5 separate regions of the Homo sapiens genome follow, and all the other regions are reported to be linked to region 1. The links are microRNA targets in miRTarBase. Many come from high-throughput screens and were not tested one by one. Region 1 holds a microRNA gene; each other region holds the end of a gene's coding sequence.
What was found. Region 1 holds the annotated microRNA hsa-miR-155-5p (UUAAUGCUAAUCGUGAUAGGGGUU, at 1,691-1,714, opposite strand). A microRNA usually pairs through its seed, bases 2 to 8, with sites in the 3' UTR of a target mRNA and lowers its output. Matches are read on the target gene's strand: a 7mer-m8 pairs with bases 2 to 8, a 7mer-A1 pairs with bases 2 to 7 and ends in A, and an 8mer does both.

Region 1 (4,646 bases):
CAAGTGATTCTTCTGCCCCAGCCTCCTGAGTATCTGGGATTACAGGCACGCACCACCATGCCTAGCTAATTTTTGTATTTTTAGTAGAGACGAGGTTTCACTATGTTGGCCAGGGTAGTGTAGAACTCCTGACCTCAAGTGAACCACCCGCCTTGGCCTCCCAAAGTGTTGGAATTATAGGCGTGAGCCACTGTGCCTGGCCTGAAGAAACACTCTTGAATGTGTTCTACCTACATGGGAGCTCCGTGGAGCCACAAGCTCATTCCAGGTGTTAGGAGAAGAAATTTGTGTTGGCAGCACATACAACTTGAACAGAAAGTGAGGAGAAGAAATTTGTCTTGGCAGCACATACAACTTGAACAGAAAGTGGGGCAAAGCCAAATGGGTATTCTTACATGAGAATACTGTGTCCTAGGAGTCAGGAATGTTCCCTTTAGTGTCCTCATAATTTTCTTCCATTGTCTTTTTTTGGCAGATAGCTTCTGGAATTATAATTTGTACTTTGCAAAAGAAAATGGGCCATAAAAATTATTTTAAATCAACTAAAGACTCATGAGATTTATTTGGTTACAGTGAATAACCTGGACAAAATGTTGAGAAGAGTTGTTAAAACAAGTTTACATTAAATATACTAACAATTACGTTTGGTTACATATTTGTAAGTGATGGTTATTTAGAAAAACTGCATAGAAATCCAAACCTTAAATATTCTGCAAATCAAATCATTAGCTTTTCTCTTCTCTAATAAAGTAGGGTGACTAGTTCTTGGATTAATCTAACTATAACATTAATGTAGCACTTGATTATCTTATGGAATAATTCTCTATCTCATCTAAGCCTCACAACAACCTTGTAAAGTATTATCCCCATATGGAGGAAGAAACAGGCTTAGAAGTGGAAAGGTAGATTCTCTGCTCGCACAACCGTATTATGTGGCTAAGCTATTGAACTTGAACCTAGATTTGGGACTTCATTTCAAATATGAAATTTTTTGATTAAATCTTTTTATCTTGTATGGAAAAAATATCTCATTAGCTGTCAGATGTTATTTACCCTGCTAACTGTTAAAAATATTTCATTAAAAAAATTCAGCTTCATAGCCTTTCAGTTTCCCTTTAAGAGTCAAATAAAAGTATTAATTTTAAACTGAAGTTGCCTGAACAGAAAATCGTTACCTGGGGGAAAGTACCAGTTTCTAAATCTTTTAAAAAACGTTGCCAGACAATCCATGATATAACTGGAGGTTAGTAGTCCTTCTAATTTTTAACTACAAAAATATTATAGAAATTTGTGTTTAGCCCACATTTCTAACAGTTGAATCAAAGGTGTTTATGAACATTATAATGAACAAGCCAAAACCTGCAATTAAGAATGACATGAATATATTTTCTGTTAATGATAAAAACAAACATGGGCTTGACATTTAAATGAAAATGTTTGCATTTAGGATACTACTGATAAATCTTTTAAATAACCTTACTTTCAAAACTTAGTTTAAGGTTGAACATCCCAGTGACCAGATTATGATTAACAGATTGAAAAATGATAAAGCCTGAAGTCTAAGTTTATCCAGCAGGGTGACTCATGCTTCTTTGTCATCCTCCCACGGCAGCAATTTGTTCCATGTGAATGCTAGTAACAGGCATCATACACTGTTAATGCTAATATGTAGGAGTCAGTTGGAGGCAAAAACCCCTATCACGATTAGCATTAACAGCATACAGCCTACAGCAAGCCTTCAGCACTCAGAGGATGAGGCATAAAGAATTTAAACCACAGATTTCCCCTTCCTGGTTTGTGCCACCTGCAAGAGAGAAAGAAATGTTTGTGTATGCACATGCGGTTATAAAGCTGGAGTGACAGCATATAGTAAATCTGAAAGGAAAATAGTCCATTTTCTGTTGAAAGGAAGGAGCTCATTAAATCCTTGGAAGTAATTTTTTGAAAGTGGTAGAGAAATTGGCAATTAAAAGATGACATTGTTACCTTTAGGCATATTTGAAGACTTTGAAAATTATGTTTTAAATTCTATTCTCTAGTTTTGAATCGGGTACACATATGTATCATCTTCTTTAAATAAAAAACAAAAACCGCTCTTCGGAGTTTTCAAATGCCAAAATGCAAAGAGGAAAGCTTGCATTCTGACACAGTACAGTTTTTTTTTTTTCTGATTTGTACTTCATCTAGGAGCTAGACAATTAAAGGCCCAAATGTTCAAAATAGTCCTTTATGATTTATGAAAATTAAAACCCAATTAACCTGTTTTATAAGGGTAGGGTTCAGGCTGAATTTTTCTTTCTGTAATACATAGTTGAAGTTTTACCTTTATTCTTTCAGGAAATGTGATACAAGCAATGGAGGTTTGCCTACAAACGAATCTATCTGAAAATGTCCCCGTCTACTATTTAGAGATTCCTTTGGGGAAAGCACTACCCAGTGGCTTTGGTTTTGACTACATAAAGGAAGTATGACTTAAAGAGTCCTCTGTGTTTCAAACTACTTGTCTTAGGCAGAGGGTTGATTAAAAAAAAGAACAAGATGAATTTGCTACTTCCTTTTAGAGTCTGATTTTACTCTCTCAGATAAAGTGACATTTCTCCCACAGGTTTCTGATTTCAGTGTTACTATAACAGAACCTAGAAGTTAGAGTATCATTCAAGTATGTGGTCTCCTGCAGTACAAGAGGGGAATCACCTTTTCTTTTATTTAATAATGAAACCAGCTAGATATAAAAATGTGACTAAGTTCAAAAGAAACGTATGAAGTAAAAAATTCCCCAGTGAATATATTTTGACAGGGCAGAATATCGTGGTTTGGAAATTTCCAAACCAAGGAAATATATTATTCTTACTGATAGTATTTTTTTTTAAACTTTACTGTTTTCTGAGATGAATTAGTTGATGATGAAAAAATTTGGGTTAAATGATGTCACTTCAGGAATTCAATTCATTTTACAGAATTTCAGTCAATAAAGATTGTAAAAACAAGGACTTTTTTTCCCCCTTACAGGGTCCTGGACACAGTAAATGCTCAATAAATACATATTAATAATGTAGTGTTAGTGCCACCCCAGCCAATATAACTCGCCCTTTTCTTAAAAGATGTGTTTAATTTGTATTGAAGGTAAATTGCTGGCATACTATTCTACCCATAAATTTTATTCCTGTTCTTTAAAGATAACATATGAGCACAGGTATTAAAATAAATATATTTAGTATACTAATTAGCTTTTTCCCTCTTTTTAAATATACATACGAATTGCCTGATTAGAGCACTCAGAAAAGTGACAGTGTTTTTGATAATGTGTTATATATATTAAAAATTCTAATAGCTTTTTTTATTTGTTCAAACTCTAAATGTATATTGAAATAAAACATGTCACACAGGTCCCCTTTTGTTCTCAAACACAACCTTGTCATACAGGCATGATGAATTCCGAACACTGCAGAGAAATGAGAAGTTTGTCTAAATATACTATAGAACCTTAGGTCATATTTAAAACACAATGATAGATGAAAAACATTAATGAACAGAAGAAAGGAGAAATATCCCAGAAAAAAAAAAAAATATATATATATATATATATATTCTACAATTTAAAAATAGTAGACTTTTAAGGACATTAGAATGACTAGAAGGTCATTCATTCATCAGTGTGGAGTCTATGTCCACTTCCAGTGTTTTTGACTGGGCTAAGCAACCAACAACAGAATTGCTATATGCCTGAGTGGGAATTAGTGGTCATAGACAACAAAGGCCAGTCTATTAGCCAAGGCACTGGGCAGAGGGTGCTTTCATGAGGTAATAAGAAATAAAGTAGTTCTTTCTGGAATCGGTGTGGCCACCAGCTGGTAAAGTGGCAGGGGAAGAATTATACACAATTATAGGCCTGACAATCAGTAGTGACAGTGCTAACCAAGTAAGAATGTGACAAGCATAATGTTTAATGTATAGCAATGCAAGAGTAATTTATATGAATTATATATTAGAAATTAGACTGGGGTCTTTGACTAGGTAGTTCTGCAGATATACTTCCAGTCCCCTCACTCCACAATACTTCTTAGGCCTACCACATGAAATATCCATTGTCAGTATAAGTTTTACTGTGTAGCATAGGTTCCAAGTTAAATGTTCTTAACAAATTACTACACACTGTCTGAGTATCAAAATCATTCCTTCTCACAGTAGGTAAAAATCTACCAAGAGGAAGCACTATGTATACTAGATTAATGATAACACCAAGGATCTTTCATTATATGACAGGCAATTCTTCCTCTGGTGCTAAGAATGAAGCTGAAGGTGGCACTTTGGGAAATTTTTCCTTAAATTATGCTTTCCTGAAGGACAATTTTTTTGGGGGGGGTGGAGTGTGAGCATAAGATTTAAGAATATCTGGCTGGGTGTGGTGTCTCATGCCTGTAATCCTAGCATTTTGGGAGGCCGAGGTGGGCGGATCATGAGGTCAGGAGTTTGAGACCAGCGTGACCAACATGGTAAAACCCCGTCTCTACTAAAAATACAAAAAAATTAGCTAGGCGTGGTGGCGCACGCCTATAATCCCAGCTACTCAGGAGGCTGAGGCAGGAGGATCACTTGAACCTGGGAGGCAGAAGGTAGTAGTGAGCCGAGATTGTGCCACTGCACTC
Region 2 (4,605 bases), not on the chromosome of region 1:
AGAGCAGAGGGGGTTGTCTCCAGTGGGTGTCTATAATTGTTCCTCTGTGGTCTTGCATGTCAGAAATTGCTATTTAGTGGTCAGCTTCTGATGTCCTGTCTCCTAGCACAGGGAAGCCCCCAGCTTTGAGATCAGGATAGTCAAAGTGTCTTGATACGGGCCACTTGGGCTTCTCCCCCTGACCCCCCCAAAAGAAACCTGCATCTTCTCTGGAGAAGGTGTTTTTCTTATTCTTTTTTTTTTCTTTTTTTCTTTTTTCTTTTTTTTAAGGATTTCTTTTATCAAAGCAGTATTGCTGAAGAGTTGGAAACAGTTCTCATTGTCTCCTCCTTAAAAATTAGGGCTGGCTTTACATGAGAAGTAAGGGTGGAATGGAAGAGGAGAGGAACCTGTGGAAGGTGGGCGATGAGCTCAGGTCTGTAGAGCCTCTCAGGGCCTATGACCTTGAGATGTTCATCCCCTTAGAAGATAGAACTGGGTTTCCTGGGCCCCCAGATGCATTTGCAGTGAGACTTGTGAAATGCTGGACTTACAGGTGGTGTTTGATTTGATTTCTGCACATTCTCTCTGGAGTAGAAATGGAGACTGGAAAGGTCGAGTCTGGTTTTGCTGGGCAGCTGGGTGGCCAGCAAAGCCAGCTGCACGTCCCCAAGCACAGATAGAGTGGCAAGGGCATGTCCAGCTTACTGACCATCTGCATTGAGCTCATTCTCATTTTCTATATCTGACTTAAAGTTTCTCTCGTTTCTTTTCTTCTCTTCACCTTTAAGCACAAACATAAACCATCCTTGCTACAGCCTAGAACAGTTAAGTAAACCTTTCTCACTGCCCCTAACTGTGTGTGCCATGAAGTCGCAGTGTTGTAGTGGCTCTGGGCTTCAGCGGTGTTTGCCACGGCCATCCCTGTGATAGTGCCACCCCTCCGTCCCCACAGACCAGTCATCTCCATTGCTTTTGCTTTGCCCGTGATGCTTGTTGGAGTAGATGAATATAGTGTGTCTTAGCGCTGTCCTTTCCGGCTGTAGCTCCCACCAGTTAATTCCGAACTGGGGGTGGGCTGACCTTGATGTGAAAGAATGTTGGAGCAGCATCCTGCCAAAAAGCAACTCACGTTGGCTCTCCTGCCAGTGTGCCCTGAGTGGCCCCAAGGCACCTGGCTGGAGGGAAAATGGCAAACTTTTGGCTGAACTGGAGAATGTCCTAACAAACCCCCTTCCAGAATGGCTTTAGTCTCTAGTGCTTGCTAGCATGGGAGCTTTGTCTTGAATTCCTTTTGATCTGCCCCGTTTCTCTCCAGCCTTAGGAATAAATCTAGAGGCTATTGTGCAATGATCTGTGGGCTTTTTAGAAGTCTCTAAATTTCCTTGAAATTCAGTACAGCCCAGCATAAACTACTCAAGTTCTTGATCAGCCTGCTGCTTTGTTCTTATTAATAAAAGCAGTGTGTAGCTGGCTAAGGACTTGTTTTATTAATGCTCCACAGGAGCAGAGACAGACAGAGAGACATAGTGAGCCTTGAACCAAACACCTGTATTCCAACATTTTACACAGCGGTCTGGGCACCCTGTGCCTAGGAGAGCCAGCTACGTGTCTACCTGAGTCTGACCTGGGCCAGGGGCTGTTATCTTGGGAAAGCCAGAATGTCATTAAGAAAGGGACAAATAGGCAGTTGCTTGTGTAGCAAGGCAGCCACCAGGTTGCTCAAAGGGGGTTCTGCATAAACCAACATATTTTGTTGTTGCTTCCAGGGCAGCAGAAGAAGCCTTTGTAAATGACATTGACGAGTCGTCCCCAGGCACTGAGTGGGAACGGGTGGCCCGGCTGTGTGACTTTAACCCCAAGTCTAGCAAGCAGGCCAAAGATGTCTCCCGCATGCGCTCAGTCCTCATCTCCCTCAAGCAGGCCCCGCTGGTGCACTGAAGAGCCACCCTGTGGAAACACTACATCTGCAATATCTTAATCCTACTCAGTGAAGCTCTTCACAGTCATTGGATTAATTATGTTGAGTTCTTTTGGACCAAACCTTTTTGTCTTTAGAGTTGTTCATTGTTTGTGATTGCATGTTTCCTTCCTTCAACTGTGTTCTCCCTGGCATTCAGAGAGGAGGGAGAGGAGGAAGAGGAAGGGGAGGGAAGCTTCCCAAGAGTAGCCTCAACCTGTGCTTCTGTGCATTATTCTGAGAATAAATTTCTGTTTCAAACTGTATTATGTGAAGCTTCTTTATTGACCTCAAGATGTGTTGTAGTTTGGAGTGAGGTTGGAAGGAATTTCCAGGAGGAATTTCCTTGAAATTTCTAGGGCTGAGGAGGCACAGCCACTGGGCACACAGCCCTGCCTTGAACTAAGATAGCACCGGGATCTAGAGTGGGATCCTGTGGACATTTTCATTTGAGAAGGGAGTTTAGTGGCTGAAGGTTAACCCCCTCATTATCTACCTAAGACACAGCTGTGAATCCTCTCACCAACCTAGTCGTTTTCTCCCAGATGGGCTCTTGCTTGCCAGTGTCCCTCAGTTTAGGGTCTTGGATAGTATATTTCGGCAGGAGTCTGTGGGGCACGTAGACTCTAGTAAGACCTTGACTCCTTTGGATCCGGCCAGTAAGCCTGAGTCAGGACGGCATTCATGTGTGGCTAGCCCCATTACTGTTGAGTCCTGTAGCACATGTTGGGTTCTGTGCCATCCCAAGCACTTGGTTCATATTTCTCTTGTAAAATCCTTCATCTAGACCTGTGCTGTCCAGTGCAGTATTCACCAGGCCCATGTGGCTATTTAAATGAATTTAAAATACATTTCTAGTCCTAGTCACAATTCATGTGCTCAGTAGCCATATGTGGTTAGGTGGCACTCGGATAGCACAGGTTATAGAACATGTCCATGGTCGCAGAAAGCTGCACTGGACCATGCTGATCTACCACAGGTGTTTCCAGGAGCCCGTGCTTTGTTCAGACACCAGTAAGTTCATTATCTGTCTTCAGAACCTGGCATAGTACCTGGCTCGTTTTAGGTGATGTTCCAAGCAATTATTAAAGCTATATTTCAGTAATCTGCTTATAACTACCTGGTACTTCCAAACTGGAGATTGAGGTAAACTGTAATACTATGCTCAGGATGGGGGTTAGGTGTTGCCATTGCCAAGAAGGAAAGGCCACTATCTCTTCAATGTTAATTATTTTTGGCTGGAAGGAGCTTTCATTACTTTTCCTGCTACCTCCCCGTTTCCAAGCTTAGTTGGGCTTTCCTTGACCTGGCCCACATTTCTGGCCTCTGCTTATTCCTCCCCCTTTAGTCAAATCTTATTACAATCAAGCAATCATTGTTCCCAGACTTTTGTTCCTACGGGACCTGCTAATCCCATTCCAAATGTCAAAATCCAATTTAAGAACTAGTTCAAAGGCCACCCCCCTTCCCCTGAACTCCCATGGCCATCTACCTGGGGCAGCTTATTTTTGGTAGTCTTGGTGCCATCGTCTGGACCAGTCTTGCCTCCCACACCAGCTGGGCTTCTTGAGGTGGGAGGTGGCAATTTTAAATGTCAACAAAATCTGTGACATTCTCTAGATGGAGAGGTGACTGAATAATGTGACAAAAGTGATGCTGGGATGACTTCCAAGGCTAGGTCATAAAAGGCAGTGCTGCTGATGGTTGATTTGTTGGAGCAACTAGCTGGTGGCCCTGAGCCGCCTCATAAAAAATTCTACCTTTGAAGCTACCCATGTGGTGAGGAAGCCCAAACTAGCCCACAGAGAGGCCACCTGAGAGACCCTGTAACCACACACATTGGGAGATGCCTGGCCAGCCAGCCTCGTGCTATTCCAGCTGACAACTACAAGTGCAGGATACTCTTGAGCTACAACTGTCAAGTTTGAGCCTTTCCCAAATCCTGACCCACAGAAACCACGACGTGAAACAATTACTGTTGTTTTAAGCTCTTCAGTTTTGAGGTTACACAGCAATAGTAATTTGGGATTGTTTCTAATGCCTGTATGAGACCCACATAGGGCCTCATAAAAAGAGGGAGTGGGTCTAGGGACTCAGTAAATGCTTAACACTTAGTTTCAAACCTCTTTCTTGGGGGCTACTTTGCTTTTTTATGCCAAATTTTCAATGTTATATATAGCAATGTTTTGTTTTTGTTGTTTTTGAGACAGGGTCTCACTGTGTCGCCCAGGCTAGAGTGCAATGGCATGATCATAACTAACTTACTGCAGCCTCCACTTCCCGGGCTCAGGTGATCCTCCCACCTCAGCCTCCTGAGTAGCTGAGACTGCACCATGCCTGGCTAATTTTTTTTGTATTGTTTTGTAGAGATGGGGTTTTGGCATGTTGCCCAGGCTGGTCTCGAACTCTAGGGTTCAAGCAATCTTTCTGCCTCAGCCTCCCAAAGTGCTGGGATTACAGGCATGAGGCACCATGCCCAGCCATGCTTTCTATTAATAGACTTTTTTTGGTTAAGAAAGCAATGATATTAGAGGCCTTAAGGAAGTTATATAACCTTCAAAACGTAAGCAGTGCAACAATTAAATCTCTTCTGGGAAGGAAAATGCTTTTGGCTAATGAGTTACGAACAAAACAAAATACAACAGGATTTCAACAAGGAAATGTAT
Region 3 (4,646 bases), not on the chromosome of region 1:
TGCCACACTGCTTCCCAATTCGCTGGTCAGTTATTAAAATTTGTCAGGCCTGCCGAAGGATTGACATGCTGGGCAATGCAGGCCACCACGGTGGATCTGTGACTCCTGAAGGTGGCAAAGCCCTGCACACTGCCTTGGGATGAGCACACTGAGCTCTGCAGGGCCTCAGCTGGAAGGCGCCATCCAATCGTCCTTCCCCTCCCCAGCAGAACTCCAGAGGTGGGGCGGCTGCCGCAGGGCCCAAGGCTGCCTCGGCAGGGGGCTTTGTGCTTTTTGTTGTGGAGGCCACCAGGGATTCAGGAAGATCCTGAATGGGTTGTCAATTGACTGAAAAGTAAATTCCCAGTGAGTTTGAACCTCCACGGTTTTTGAGACAGTATTAAAAGCTTGAGAACGGAGATTATGGATGGCACCAGGCTGGGCACTGCCATTCTTTTACTTTCCTTCATGCATTTTTTCGGATCCAGAGTATTAACACCACTTTTTTTACTCTGCCCATTCAAAAACAGTAGGCAAATTGGGGGAACCAATTTATAATCACTCAAGCCCACTGCCAAAGTTCGGATAAGCCAGGGCAGAGGGGTTAGATTCCCCCCCCTCCGTAGGCAGAGAGAGGCCTCAGGAGAGTGGACATCTTTACTGAGACAGCCCCAAACACACCAGTGGCTCTCAAAGTGTGTCCCTGAGACCAGCAGCATCACCTTAGGAATCTGCTAGAAATAAAAATTCTTGGGCCATACCCCAGGGTTACTGAATCAGAAACTTGGTTGGGGCCTAGCAGTGTTTTCATGAGCCCTCCATTGATCTTGATGCAGCTGAAGTGCCGGGCACCAGTGAAAGGGAAGGGCTGCGGTAGTGATTCCATTGATTCCTGCTTTGATGGAAGTTATGGCCTCACAGGTTAGACGTTGCAAGTTGAGTTGGCCCTCTTGCCTAGGTGTGCCTCCTTGCCTTGGGATTCTGACATGAACAGGTGAAGTCTCTTCATGATTTTTTTTGTTGTTGTTGTTAATGGTATGCTTGCTATTATGGCCAATATGTAAATGTTACTCTGAATACATATTTATATACCATGTTACTTAGTGACATTATTCAAACATTTGTATGCGTATTTGTGAAATTGTTTGCATCAGTCATTTAAAAAATATTTCAGCCTAAGTTTTCTAAGAGGTATGTTGAATACATTTTTAAAAGCCAGCTTAAGGGTCACAGCAGCCTTAGTTTAGGAGAAGAGCTAATCACAGGTGACCACTCAAGTTCTTTCAATGAAGACCTGATGATGTATTTAGTTCCCATTTTCCACGGTGATTGACTCAATTTAAGTGTATTGTGGCTATATGTAATTTACAGGCTGCTTTGCGTTGCAGGTGGGAAAATCTCCCAGGCTGGTGTGAGGCTGAACTGGGGTAAAAGACCCCCTGACCCCTCCTCATTCTTCTAAGGTCACCACCTCTTAGAGGGTCTCTTATTTTCTTTCAGAGATCAAATGCACAGTTATGCTGTACAACTAAATTCTGCAGTCTTGGGAATCCTTACGAGTACCAACTATTAGTCACTTTTTAAAGTCCCCAAAGTGGAGTGAGGATAGGGGGAGTGGAAGCAGTGTTTGGTTCTTACTTTACCCAAACTGTGTATAAAGAATAAAGTTAGCAGAATGATGCCACAGTCATTGTTTGTGTTTTTTTTTTTTTTATTAATACCACATCAATTTGAAATTTTACAGGAACCAAGATTCAAGCTCCTTAGGTGCTACTGTATTTTTATGTTGCACGCACAGACACGTACACACAGTTTCATTAGTAATTTTTCATCTATAGGTTTTTCTTAAAAAAAAAAAAAAATCCTGTGTGGCACAAAGATCTCTTCAATTATCTAAACACAGCAGCAACAAAAGAAAAGAACTGGATGTGGCACTTCCACTGCAGAAGGTCCTTTGGAGGGGAAGCCCAAAAAGACAATCACTGACTTCCTGGGAGGGCAGAGGATGAGGATGGAGAATGCACTTCCTACTAGGACATGAAACCAGTTAAAACACTCAAAGGGGGCTAAGAAAATAAGATGGAGTAAGGCAAGGGTACCTTTTACCCATCCAAATTCCTAACTAATTTTTCCAAGACACGTAGACAATTTCCTTCCACTACTTTTTGCAGCTGCCGTACTTTGGGACCATCAAATATCATAGCCCTTACTTTAAACTCGCCAGTGCATATTCCCTCTGAAGGATCATGACTATGAGTGAGAACCTGAAGGAACTCACAGATGATTTTTCTTTCAAGTTCGCTGAATTCTCATATTGAAGGTGAAGAAAAAAACTTGCCCCCAAATGGGAATCGGAGATTTGAATCTCGGGAAAAGATCAAGAAAAAAAGGCTTTCTGTATTTCACCTCTTGAGAATGTTCCCCCCCAGACTGAGATAGGATCACAAAAACTCAATAACTGAGGAGCCCACATGCAGGTTATTTTTTTCTCTAACAAGTTTACAGCAGTGCACAGCAGTTACAGACATTTATTTTATAGTAAGAAAAGTACAACCTTATTTATTAAACTTGAGGTGGGCAGGGGAGAGGGAGGAAAGCACATTCGGGAACGAGTTCTCAAACTAATGCTCAGAACCGGTGTCCAGTGACGTAGAAACCACTTTCCCAAATGGCGGAGCCTTTCCTTCCCTGGGGATAGTGGCAGAGGGAGTGACCGCCACCGCAGCATGCCTGCTGACTCCCTCTCAGTCCCACTTTCCATTTCTATTCTTTTTTATCAGATGGCATTCTTGGAATCAGGAATTATCACTATCACCTATAAGTTATTTATCAAGTTGATAGTTAAATCATTAAAGAAAAGGAGTATCAGGGGTAGCTGCTCACATTGTGGGGCAGGAAGATAGGATTTGAGGGCTGCAAAAAAAAACCAAGGAAGGTATCACACTCCTGTCCCCAAATAATTTTTTCATAAGTTAATCATGACTTCTTAAGGGCAAAACTATAATGGATAGCTGAGTAAGACTAGTGCTGAAAACTGGACAGAAGGACCCAGAGGTGTTCTTTCATTTTCTCTCTTACCTCCAATCTTTCCCCTTTCAAGCTACAGGTAAAGGCTCTACCACCATTAAGGTATTGACTTATCCTATGAATTTGATTCTTTCTTCTTCTGAGTTCTAAGATAGTTCTTTTATCAGTCCATCAATTTTTGTGCTTGATACTGAGGGTTAAAGGGAAAGGATGGGAGAAAACACCAAATTAAAAAAAAAGCTTGGAATGCAGGCTCAAGCTGACACTGAGTATTTTCCTTCATAGTACAAGTAACGACGTTATAACTATTAAATGGTGTTTTAGTAACTGTTGCATTTCTGGTTTCCATGTACTTATTCTGCCTTTTTTTTGGCGATTCCAGGGAGTTTTGCTTGGATCCTATTGAGAAAAGGAGGGGAAAAAGAAAGAAAGTGAAAACATTAGCATTTGCTCTAGGTTTTTATTTTAACTGTGATGCTAGAGGACAGTCCTGGACTTGCATAAGCAATGTGAAATGCATTCTCCCGGCTGGGTATGGTGGCTCACGCGTGTAATCCCAGCACTTTGGGAGTCCGAGGCAGGCAGATCATGAGGTCAGGAGTTGAAGACCAGCCTGGCCAATGTGGTGAAACCCTGTCTCTACTAAAAAATGCAAAAATTAGCCAGGCGTGTTGGTGTGCACCTGTAATCCCAGCTACTCAGGAGGCTGAGGCAGGTGAATGAAGGATAATCGCTTGAACCCGGGAGGTGGAGGCTGCAGTGAGCAGACATCGCACCACTGCACTCCAGCCTGGGTGACAGCGAGACTCCATCTCAAAAAAAAAAAAAAAAAGAAAAAAAGAAAAATGTTAACAAATTCAAAGCGTTAGGTTCACAGTATTTGCTATGAATAATTCAAAATAAAAGCAGGGCTCATGCCTGTAATCTCAGCACTTTGTGAGGCCAAGGTGGGAGGATCACTTGAAGCCAGAAGTTAAAGCCTGGCCTGGGCAACATAGTGAGACCCCCATCTCTATAAAAAATAAAAAATTTGCCAGGGCATGGCACATGCCTGTAGTGTCAGCTACTCAGGAGGCTGGGGTGGGAGGATCACTTGGAGCAAGGGAGGTCAGAGGTCAAGGCTGCAGTGAGCTTTCAGCTTGTGCCACTGCACTTCAACCTGGGTGACAGAGTGAGACCCTGTCTCTAGAAAGCAAAACAAAAAAGAAAGAAAAAAGAAAAAAGAAAAAAAATACTGTCCTCTAGGTATGGGGAAAAAAAGTAAAAAGAAGAAAACAACTCTTTGATATAGGGAGTCATAAAGATGTTTGTCAATATTTTATTTCCTGATTTATTAATTGGTTTAAAAAAATGGGAACAGAGATTTGGCAATCTTAGAAAAGACAACTTTGATCCTTAAGTTACTTATTTACTAGAACTTTTGTTTCTGAGAGGGATACGTTTGGCTTAAATGAATACATGTGAAAATAAATGAAGGTGGGGAAGCAACCAATAACTTTTTGGTTTTTTTTTGAGACGGAGTCTCACTGTCACCCAGGCTGGAGTGCAATGGCATGGTCTCTGCTCACTGCAACCTCGCCTCCCAGGTTCAAGCAATTCTCCCTCCTCAGCCTCCTGAGTAGCTGGGACTAAAGTTGCAT
Region 4 (4,646 bases), not on the chromosome of region 1:
GCGTTTCAGTAGACCCACATAAACTGTATTTGCCCTCAGGCAATGTCAACTTCCAAAAAAGTAAGAATAAACTTACAAAAAAGAATCAACCTTCAAATCACTTCATGGTTTTTATTTTTATTTCTACTTAGCATTAATGGGATTTTAAATGTCACCATGGACTCATTTACTTTAACTTCCACCTATCGACTTAACCTCTTGACATTTGGAATCCACTGTTAAGACTATATGTCAAATAAAAACTTAAAACATTTCAAAGGAGTAAGTATTCTGAAAATTGTGAATTTAAAAGAAGTATTTGTCAATCCCACTTCTGGATATATAGCCACAAGAATTGAAAGCAGGGCCTCAAAGAGGTATTTCCACCCTCAAGTTCACAGCAGCATTATTCACAATAGCCAGAAGTGGGAGGAATCCAAATGTCCACTGATGGATGAATAAACTAGATGTGATATAGACACACATGAATGAAAAACTATGCAGCCATAAAGAAGGAAATCCCCTCACATACTACAACATGGATGAGCCTGTAGGACAAAAGTAAAATAAACATTGCAAAAAGACAAATACTTTGTGATTCCACTTACATGAGGTGCCTAAAATATCACAGACAATATCGTAACAGTAGAAAGCAAGAGTGCTGTGGCTAGCAGGGGCTGGAGGGAGGAGAAAAAGGGCAGTCACATAATGGGCATATAGAGTTCAGTTCTGCAAGATGAGAAAATTCTGGAGATCTGTTTTACAACTTTGTAAATATTTTTAACACTGCTGAACTGTACACTTCAAAATGCCTAAGATGGTAAATTATGTGATGTTGTTTTTAACCACATACACGCAAAAACTATTTGCATCATTTTGGGTACAGATCCTTGATGGAAATACTGGATACAAGTGACTATGGTGTGCATGTAGCATCTGCCCTTTATAATGTAACTTCCTTTTAAACCACACACACAAGAAAATCTCACAAACTCAGCCTTTATTAAATATATTAAGTACTGAGCATCCTAAATTATAGCTTATTAGAGGAACGACCAAGGGTTCAGACAGAAAACAGACTATTCTGTTTCATATTTTATCTTTGTGATTATTTGGCTTATGTCTGCCTTCTCCATTAAGCAGACAGTGAGGTCCAGGGTCTGATTTTGTTCACCATTACATTTCCAGGGCCTAGCACAGTGCCTGGAAAATAGCACATAAACGTTTACTGGATGAGTCAATATAGTATTAGACACTTGGAGGCGTAGTACTACCCAAGTCTATAATCACCAAATTCAGGTGCAATAAGAGATATACCATAAAGGAGGCAGAATCAACTTTCAAAAAACTAATTTTAATCAAAACAAAAATTGTTGATCATTAACAAGTTTATAAAACAGTGATTTAGTTACATAAATAAATTGATATCAGTGTATCAAATCTTAATTACTTTCAACTTCATGAGCATGTTTACATGGGTGATGAATTACAACCTTTTTTTTTCTTTTTACCTATTATAATAAATAAAATGGAGCGCATGAAATAGTTCTTCTAAACAAAAATACCTACAAACATACCTCTAAGCATGTTCTCTAGTGAAGGGAACAAGAGACACTGGACAACTTTTGCACCAAAACATAAAAATTGCTTTAAAAAGCACAAGGTTACAGAACCATCAGCTAAAGTAAAGACACTATACTGTAACCAAAGTTGGTATTTAATAATATAATGAACAGTTTGGTAGTTAGATCTCCAGTTTGGTTATTTTAAAGCATTAAGACAAGGCAAGATAGAAGGCTGCTTTTGTTTGAGTAATTTCTAGAGAAAATAAAATATATTAAAAAAAAAGAAAACTGAAAAGTAGAACAGTCATACCTACACAACTTTCTGTCCTGCACAAAGTCAAAATACCTATGCAGAATAGATATATAATATATATAATGTTATTTGTGCACAAAGGTTAGCTTATTATTAGCTCACTGCAAAGGCGTAATGTATCATTATGTCAATTGTTTTGGAAAACATTTTGTGTTTTGTGTCAAAAGGATATTTCTTTTAAGTTTCCTAGGCTAGGAGGCACGAACCCCAATTCCGGCATATTGTATATTCTTAATGCTAAGGCTTGCTGCTCTGGCTGTGTATTTTGTTGTCCCTCTTTATTCTAGTGCCTGTTATAAGCATGTGTGGTGTAGTGGTGGTTGTTGGTGGTGTGTGTGTGTGTCTGTGTGTATACATATATATATGTATACATAAGTTGTATAAATATATATACATATATAATTTCTCCCAATAGATCTCAGTCCAACCATGCAATCCAAAAGGTGGCTCTGCATAGATGCCCAGCATGAAGTTCACCACCTGAGCCAACCCTGAAGCAAGGCGTACTTTTAGTCCTTCTGATAGGTTTTCTCTCAGTTTTTTTTTTGTTTTTGTTTAAAACCAAGCTACTGCAGCTTCAAGTATTTTGCATTACATAGAATATTTTTTATAAATTAGTTAATGTTATATTTTCAATATTCAGACATATACTATAATATATATACAGTACAATAAATGCTCTCATTCTTTTTTTAATTTTTTTGGATAAATCCCTGAGAATGTATGTTGACAGTCGCTAAGTTTCCACATGCACAAGCATCGTGTGCCATGCTTCTGGACGAACAGCACTGCAAAGCCACATGGGTCAGCCTTTTTACTATTAGTATTTCATTTTGTTGGTTTGTTTAAATATGCTGAAAATGTAAAGATGAGTTACAAAGGAGTAAAGCTGAATCCATTCGAGGTACTTATCACAGGATGGAGGTGTTTTGTTTGGTTTTTAAAGCCATTTCAATTATTTTTTTTGAGGCTGTGAACGTATACAGAAAACAGGAGAGCTATGTGGACTTTTGCCACTTGACAACATATACTCAGTGTAAACCAAACCTTTTTAACCTCTCTCTCATACAAAACCAGAAAAAAAAAATTAAAAAAAATAATAAAATAAAGGAAAGAAAGAAATAGGGAAAAAATAAAAAACACACAAACTTTCACAACATGACAATTTAGTCTGCAAACGCAATATAACTATACACATATAATACCGGTGTGGCTCTGTTCTTTAAGTTAAAAAGGGTACAAAGGCAGGCTCAAGTAAAAACAAACCATCCCTCCCATCCCCACCCCCCACCCCATTCATACAAGATCTATCAACCAAACCTCTCCCGAACCAACATCATCAGTTTCTTTTTGCCTTTGTAGATTTGTTTCAGGTTGTCAATAAACTGTGTAAACTGAATGTGTCCATCATGCGCCATTAAGAAGGTCTCTCGGGCTTTGCTGAGGAACTCTATAAACTCACTATAGTGCCGAGGACTGATGTGTGTGAGCCGTGAGTGCGTTGTGTTGATGTAGGCCCCGATCGTGGCATCCAAGAGTTGCCTCAAGGGGGCTTTGTCCAGTGACATGAGCTTACCAGAGTTCCTCCTCCCATGAAGTCCCACCATGCCAGGAGTGGTCAGAGTGCATCTGCGCAAAATGTCTGACAGTACCGTTGCACACTTGACACTCTTGACCACCAGAGGTATTATAGCTGCAAGCTCATTTTTACCAAGGGAGTGGCTAAGCGCACAGGCCCACAAAACATCATTAATGGCAGGGTGTGTGTCCTGATTGTAGCTCAGGTTGAGATGGGTCATGGCCAGGGTGGCCAGCTTGTAGGCCCTCATGGGGTACCCGCGGTGCTCCATGTACCGTGCTATTGTAAAGAGCTGTGTATAGCTCATGCCAGTCGTAGCAGCGTCGAGAACAATTTGGTACGCCGTCTCAAAAGCTATGTGATCCTTTTCACAAAGGGTTAGCGCAGAGAGGGCACAGTTCTGTGGATCCTTCATGGCACACTGCAGTGCAAGTGTCCGGGCGCTGCTGGCCAGCTTTTCCTGCTGGTGGCAGTCCAGGTGGAGGCGGACGATGGTGCTGTTGGACATCACGGTAGTTGCAACTATACTTGTGGCCTCGGTGGGAGTAAAGAGTGTAAACCAGGTCTGCATGATGCTGTCCAGGGCATAAACCCCTGCAAGGAACACAAACAGGCTCTATTACTGACGAGGAGGCTGCCCAGAGGTCCTGCCTTATTTTGACTTTTACAACCAGTGTTTACATTGTTAACCATCATAGGACATGAGCTAGGCTAGAAAATCCTGTAAAGTAATGTGCCTGTGAGAAACCTTTAAGAATAAGGTCATTATGAATTGTTATTCAGTGAAATGCCTGAAAGGAACATGAACTTGCTATAATAAAGAACCAATCCTCTTGGTAGCTGGTATTTGTACTGTGCTGCTTGCCATTTCAGACAATGGCTTTTTGCTAATGAGTTCTACTTCACTGGGGCTTCCTGTCAGAATTTGAGGCTCAAAAATTGCAACCTCACCAAAACAGGGACTTTACATGGCTTATGTGCTTGTGTGTAAGGTAAAAGTACACATAATACAAAAGTTTAAAACACACAAAGAAGCTGGAAAATGTGGCCCATAATCAAGAGAACAAAGTCAATAGAAGCAGACCTACAGATGAATCAAACGTTGGAAATGGCTGACCATGTCTTTAAAATAATCACTTTACGTTCACAGACCCAATATCCCTCACTTGTAGGAAAATCCTAAAAGTGAATGATTTGAAGAGAAGGTACT
Region 5 (4,323 bases), not on the chromosome of region 1:
TTTATAATCTACTGTAATTTCCACTAAATGGAACCCAAATATTAATGTTATGGTACCATATACTGATGTAAAAATCATGCTGGCATCCATGAACACACCGGTAAATAAAACATAGTCCAAGTGGAAGAATTCATTAATAAGGAACTTTTAATTATGTCACAAATGAATAGTTGGTTTCCAATGCACAAATATCATGTAAACTAATCTAAAGATGGTTTGCTTAATAAATATTTGAATGTGACCTAATTCTGGCTTAATCATCTATTTATTATTAAAAAATAATACTCTTAACAGCTCTGAGTTACACATAAATGATGATAAAGCTATACCTATTTAAGAAAGTAAGTAGGATGTTCTGGATAATTTCTCAACCAACAATGTACATTATTAGAATGAAAACTGTTTTATTTTTTTTTCCAAAATATACTATTATTATGTCTCAACCAGCAGAGATTCAAATTCAGCAGGACTGGAGTGGGAGTGAGGCCTGGGCAACCATGTGTCTAACCTCAGCCATTTCTGATACATAAGCCTGCATAAGAGCCAGGAACAGGACCATAGACTCTTGAAATAGAAAGATTTGGGTTCAGAAGTTGGCTCAGTAGGTAATAAGCCTTGTCACTAAGTTAGTTATTTAACCCCTGTGGGTCTCAGTGATCCCATCTGTGAAATGAGGATAACAACAACACTTACTTACTTACCCTATTGGTATGAAAATACTTCTTTCCATGAAAATAATTACAATTGTTTTCATTTTTCATCATCAATCACACAAAGTACACAGACTCATTTCAATTTTTTTTCTTCCCACCACAGCGACCCTAATGAGGTAGGTATAATGAAAAAATTAAGGCATAATGGGGGCAATCTGAGAAATTAGTGTCAGAGTAGACAGACATAAACCACTGCATCAAGGTTCAATCTCCTGTAAGCAAAAGAAAGAAACGATTTGACTTGTACTGTAATGCAATCTAGTATAGTCAGTTTCCTTTTTATGCGATTCTATTACATAATAGTTACTATCTTCTTTTTAATGGCCTTTTATTCCTGGTCACTAGAGTCTAGTTTTTTCTTTCATTTTCTTACTTGCCCACCCAACTTTCACATAACTGTCATAAAGAGGAAGAAGGGTGTAAGATAATTACAATCTTAGTAATTTTGAAATTATGCTTTGCCTAATATTTTCTTTCATTGATAATAACTTATTTTCCACATATATTAAGTTCTCCCTCCCCCCATTTTTTTTAAATTATGGGAAGAAGCAAAGAAATGAACAAACATATATAGCACACTTTAAACAGAACTGTTACTTAAATAACTGAAAACGCATTGACATAATCATTTTTATTTGATTTAATTGATAAATAAATACAAGAGAACTGTTGTGAAACCACTGGCAATATAGTAAATTTTAAAGATTTTATTTCAACTTCACTCACTTATATTTCTTGGAATGGGGATATATACATTATTCACCAATAAATGCTAATGCTTTAAATTTACAATTACCCTATTTGTAGAAACCTGAAGATCATTCCAATTAAATGAAAAAAAATTGTACAAAAACGTTCTTTTGCTCTTACAATTCAAAATACATTCAAATTCACATTCTTACAGCAGCCAAAACCTTTAACCCAAAATTCAGAACTGCAGTCCTACAAGTGAACAAACTAGTGTTTTAATTTAATTATCATGATTGTTGTTAACACTGAAAAAAAAACATGGTGGCTCCTGAAACAAGACAGGTTAGCAACTGGTACAGCTTTCCCTTCTGGGCACTCAAAGCTTTGCCCTTGATTATTATTTTTATTTCATCTTTTCAAACACAGACAATTGCTCCAACTTGAAAGTTTCAATGGAATTTTGGCATTTAATATTGCTAATGCTTGCTAAGATTTAAGATCTCCCAATGATGAGAATCAGAAAATGACGCACGACTAAATTAAAATCATCCTAAAAGACTTACTACATAGTGGTATCTGGTATTCAATATCAATAGTGTTTTTGAATTACATGATATGTTTTTCACAAACATAGCACCTCATCAAATATCTGGTAAACACTTTGCAATCACAATAAGTGTTGGGAGACCAAGTTCCAAAGACAATTATGTGATTCACTTAAAGGTAACATTGTAAGACAAGTCTCAGGCATAATGAAGATTAGGAATGCAGTCTGCTGGTTCCCATGATCTAAAGGGATGCTCACCTATATGGGCACCATCCTATTAAGACGTGGTAATATGTTTCCAAACCAAAAAAAGTCGGTAAGTGTTAAAATGGACTCCTGCTTTATAAATGATCTGTTAAATGTACTTGTAAAATTAAAAAAATTTCCAAAATGTCAAAAGAGATATGATTATTGTATCTCATTATTCCAAGTAATTCTGTTAAAAAGATACTAAATGAAGTCCAATTTTATCTTGTAAAGTTTTAGTGTAAAAACTAATGTACTGAAATTCAGTAAAGTTTAACTTTCATCTAAATGTAACGAAACAACTATTCATTTTGGTGAGTTTTCACAAGCTGTACTCCTGACCTGAAGAATCACTTTTTTTATGCCGAGGAGATGGAGTAGTCTTTGTAGGAGATGGGGACGCAGTACCAGGTGAGTCAGTTCCTCCATCGGAAGTACTTGGTGATGACGCCAGATAGGGAACTTTCTTTCTTCCAAGGAATCCTCCCCCTTCAAATCCTCCTTTCTTCCTAAACTCTATTTTATTTTCATTTTCATCTTCTGATGACCTTTTCTTGGATTCTGAAAAACCTTCAGCTATTTTATGCACTTCCAATCCACTATCCAATTCTCTCAAACTTTTTATTTCTACTCCAGGAGACTTTCTCTCAGATATATTACATTCCCCTGTTGCCCCTTTCACTTCAGCTTGTATTGGACCCAAGTTACCATTTTCAGGGACAGCTCTTTCTACATTTCTGTTCAAATTAATAGTCTGGAAGTCCCTATAACTGTGAAAGCTCTCAGTCCTTCTTGCCCTTGCTAATAAAGGACTTTCTCTGTAAGGCCTCATGGAACCGTAAGTAGCTGCTTCATGGGTGGTATCATGGTGCTGAAGCTGAAGGCTGAAATACAGTTTTTAAAAATGACAGTTCAGATTTCACTCTGTGATTTCTCAGGAACATATTAATTATACAACCAATAAAACACACTATATAAATACATAAAGTGTATTATATCCATATTTCTCTTTGTAAAAATATACTTATCAAGTACTCTTTATTATATAGATGGTATATAAAATTACCAATGCAAATAATACCATCATATATTCACAGACATGCTGAATTTTTGAACAGCTAAAAAAAAGATGGGAGGAAAAATCCTTGAAACCAATGTGAAACCATCATAATTCAGTATTTAGCCCTTGGTTCTTCAGACTTTGGAATTTATCAATATGATAACTAAAAAGACATTATGGAACTTTGTATTAAAATTACATAATGCTTAAATGTAAGACTAGACAACATAATAGAACCACAGATAAATATTGTCCCTGAGACAGGACAATAATTAAAGCTTCACATACTAACCAAGGTGACATGTAATTTTCCTAATTTCCTTTGAATAAATTCTTGATCACATAATAGGCTTCCAATTGGGCAGCAATTCACAAAATAAGTTAAAAGGTAAAAATGTTTTTCTATGAAAAGAACCAGATATGCCTATCAAGAAATTTGGTAAAACTGTTAAAAAGTTAACATAATGTCTGAATTTAAAATGTACCTTGAGAAGTATGGCTTTCTAGAACAACTATGTGATTACAATATTTCAGTCAATTTCCCCAAAAGAAATAAATTTTGTTTATAATACCCAACTCTTTAACCTACCTAGAATTTGATTCTCGTAAGTGGCTATGCTGAACTACGGAAGTTGCTGGACTGATGTTAGGAGTAGCACAGCGAGATGTGCTCAAATCACATTGATCGAGTAATTTGAGTAGCTCTTCTTCGGTTGGACCACCTACATCTTAGGAGAACAAATAGTCATTAAAATCACTTAAGTGAAAAGCTTAACCTTGTGACAAACATCTTTCTGTATGAGAACCTACCCTTATCTTCACTTTTGTTAACCATATCCATAGCAGTGGTCAGATCCCACATTTGAATACTGCCATTTGTATGGCCTGTGAACAAGTAGCGCCTTGGTCTTGAGCCCATCCTACTGGATCCCTCACATTCCCTCACTGTAAATGAGGATATTGTAGTACAGTCAACAGCCTGGATCTCACATATTCTGCAAAAGAAAAGCAGAAAGAGCCCTGATGGGAATGAGCAATTATTTAAAAAGAAGCTATGAAACTAAAAA

Region 2: miRTarBase lists CLTA as a target of hsa-miR-155-5p. The part of its 3' UTR that is shown has no 7-base or 8-base seed match.
Region 3: the mRNA of RTN3 is a reported target of hsa-miR-155-5p. Seed matches in the 3' UTR shown: 7mer-m8 at 2,602-2,608.
Region 4: the mRNA of ZSWIM6 is a reported target of hsa-miR-155-5p. Seed matches in the 3' UTR shown: 8mer at 2,089-2,096.
Region 5: miRTarBase lists KCTD3 as a target of hsa-miR-155-5p. Seed matches in the 3' UTR shown: 7mer-m8 at 1,881-1,887 and 7mer-m8 at 1,487-1,493.

What each region holds. Positions count from the first base shown.
Region 1 is chr21:25,571,051-25,575,696 of GRCh38, reverse strand. It overlaps MIR155 (microRNA 155), which reads right to left and starts at 1,717; the gene lies at 1,653-1,717. MIR155HG (MIR155 host gene) reads right to left here. Exons shown (of 3, transcript NR_001458.3): 3 at 529-1,804. RefSeq lists an enhancer at 1-42 and a silencer at 1,594-1,773.
Region 2 is chr9:36,209,855-36,214,459 of GRCh38, forward strand. CLTA (clathrin light chain A) reads left to right here. Exons shown (of 5, transcript NM_001833.4): 5 at 1,749-2,205. The coding sequence ends at 1,920. It overlaps LOC124902151 (a long non-coding RNA gene), which reads right to left and starts at 4,157. Exons shown (of 2, transcript XR_007061474.1): 1 at 3,432-4,157. GNE (glucosamine (UDP-N-acetyl)-2-epimerase/N-acetylmannosamine kinase) reads right to left here. Exons shown (of 12, transcript NM_005476.7): 12 at 4,587-4,605.
Region 3 is chr11:63,756,915-63,761,560 of GRCh38, reverse strand. It overlaps RTN3 (reticulon 3), which reads right to left. Exons shown (of 9, transcript NM_001265589.2): 9 at 1,679-3,405. The coding sequence ends at 3,360. It overlaps ZFTA (zinc finger translocation associated), which reads left to right. Exons shown (of 5, transcript NM_001144936.2): 5 at 1-1,669. Among named protein-coding and RNA genes, the nearest start is that of ZFTA, 9.5 kb to the left of the region's middle.
Region 4 is chr5:61,542,839-61,547,484 of GRCh38, reverse strand. It overlaps ZSWIM6 (zinc finger SWIM-type containing 6), which reads right to left. Exons shown (of 14, transcript NM_020928.2): 14 at 1,313-4,030. The coding sequence ends at 3,168. Among named protein-coding and RNA genes, the nearest start is that of LINC03122, 93 kb to the left of the region's middle.
Region 5 is chr1:215,618,814-215,623,136 of GRCh38, reverse strand. It overlaps KCTD3 (potassium channel tetramerization domain containing 3), which reads right to left. Exons shown (of 18, transcript NM_016121.5): 16 at 4,067-4,251; 17 at 3,846-3,984; 18 at 1,330-3,080. The coding sequence ends at 2,519. It overlaps USH2A (usherin), which reads left to right. Exons shown (of 72, transcript NM_206933.4): 72 at 1-246. Among named protein-coding and RNA genes, the nearest start is that of KCTD3, 54 kb to the right of the region's middle.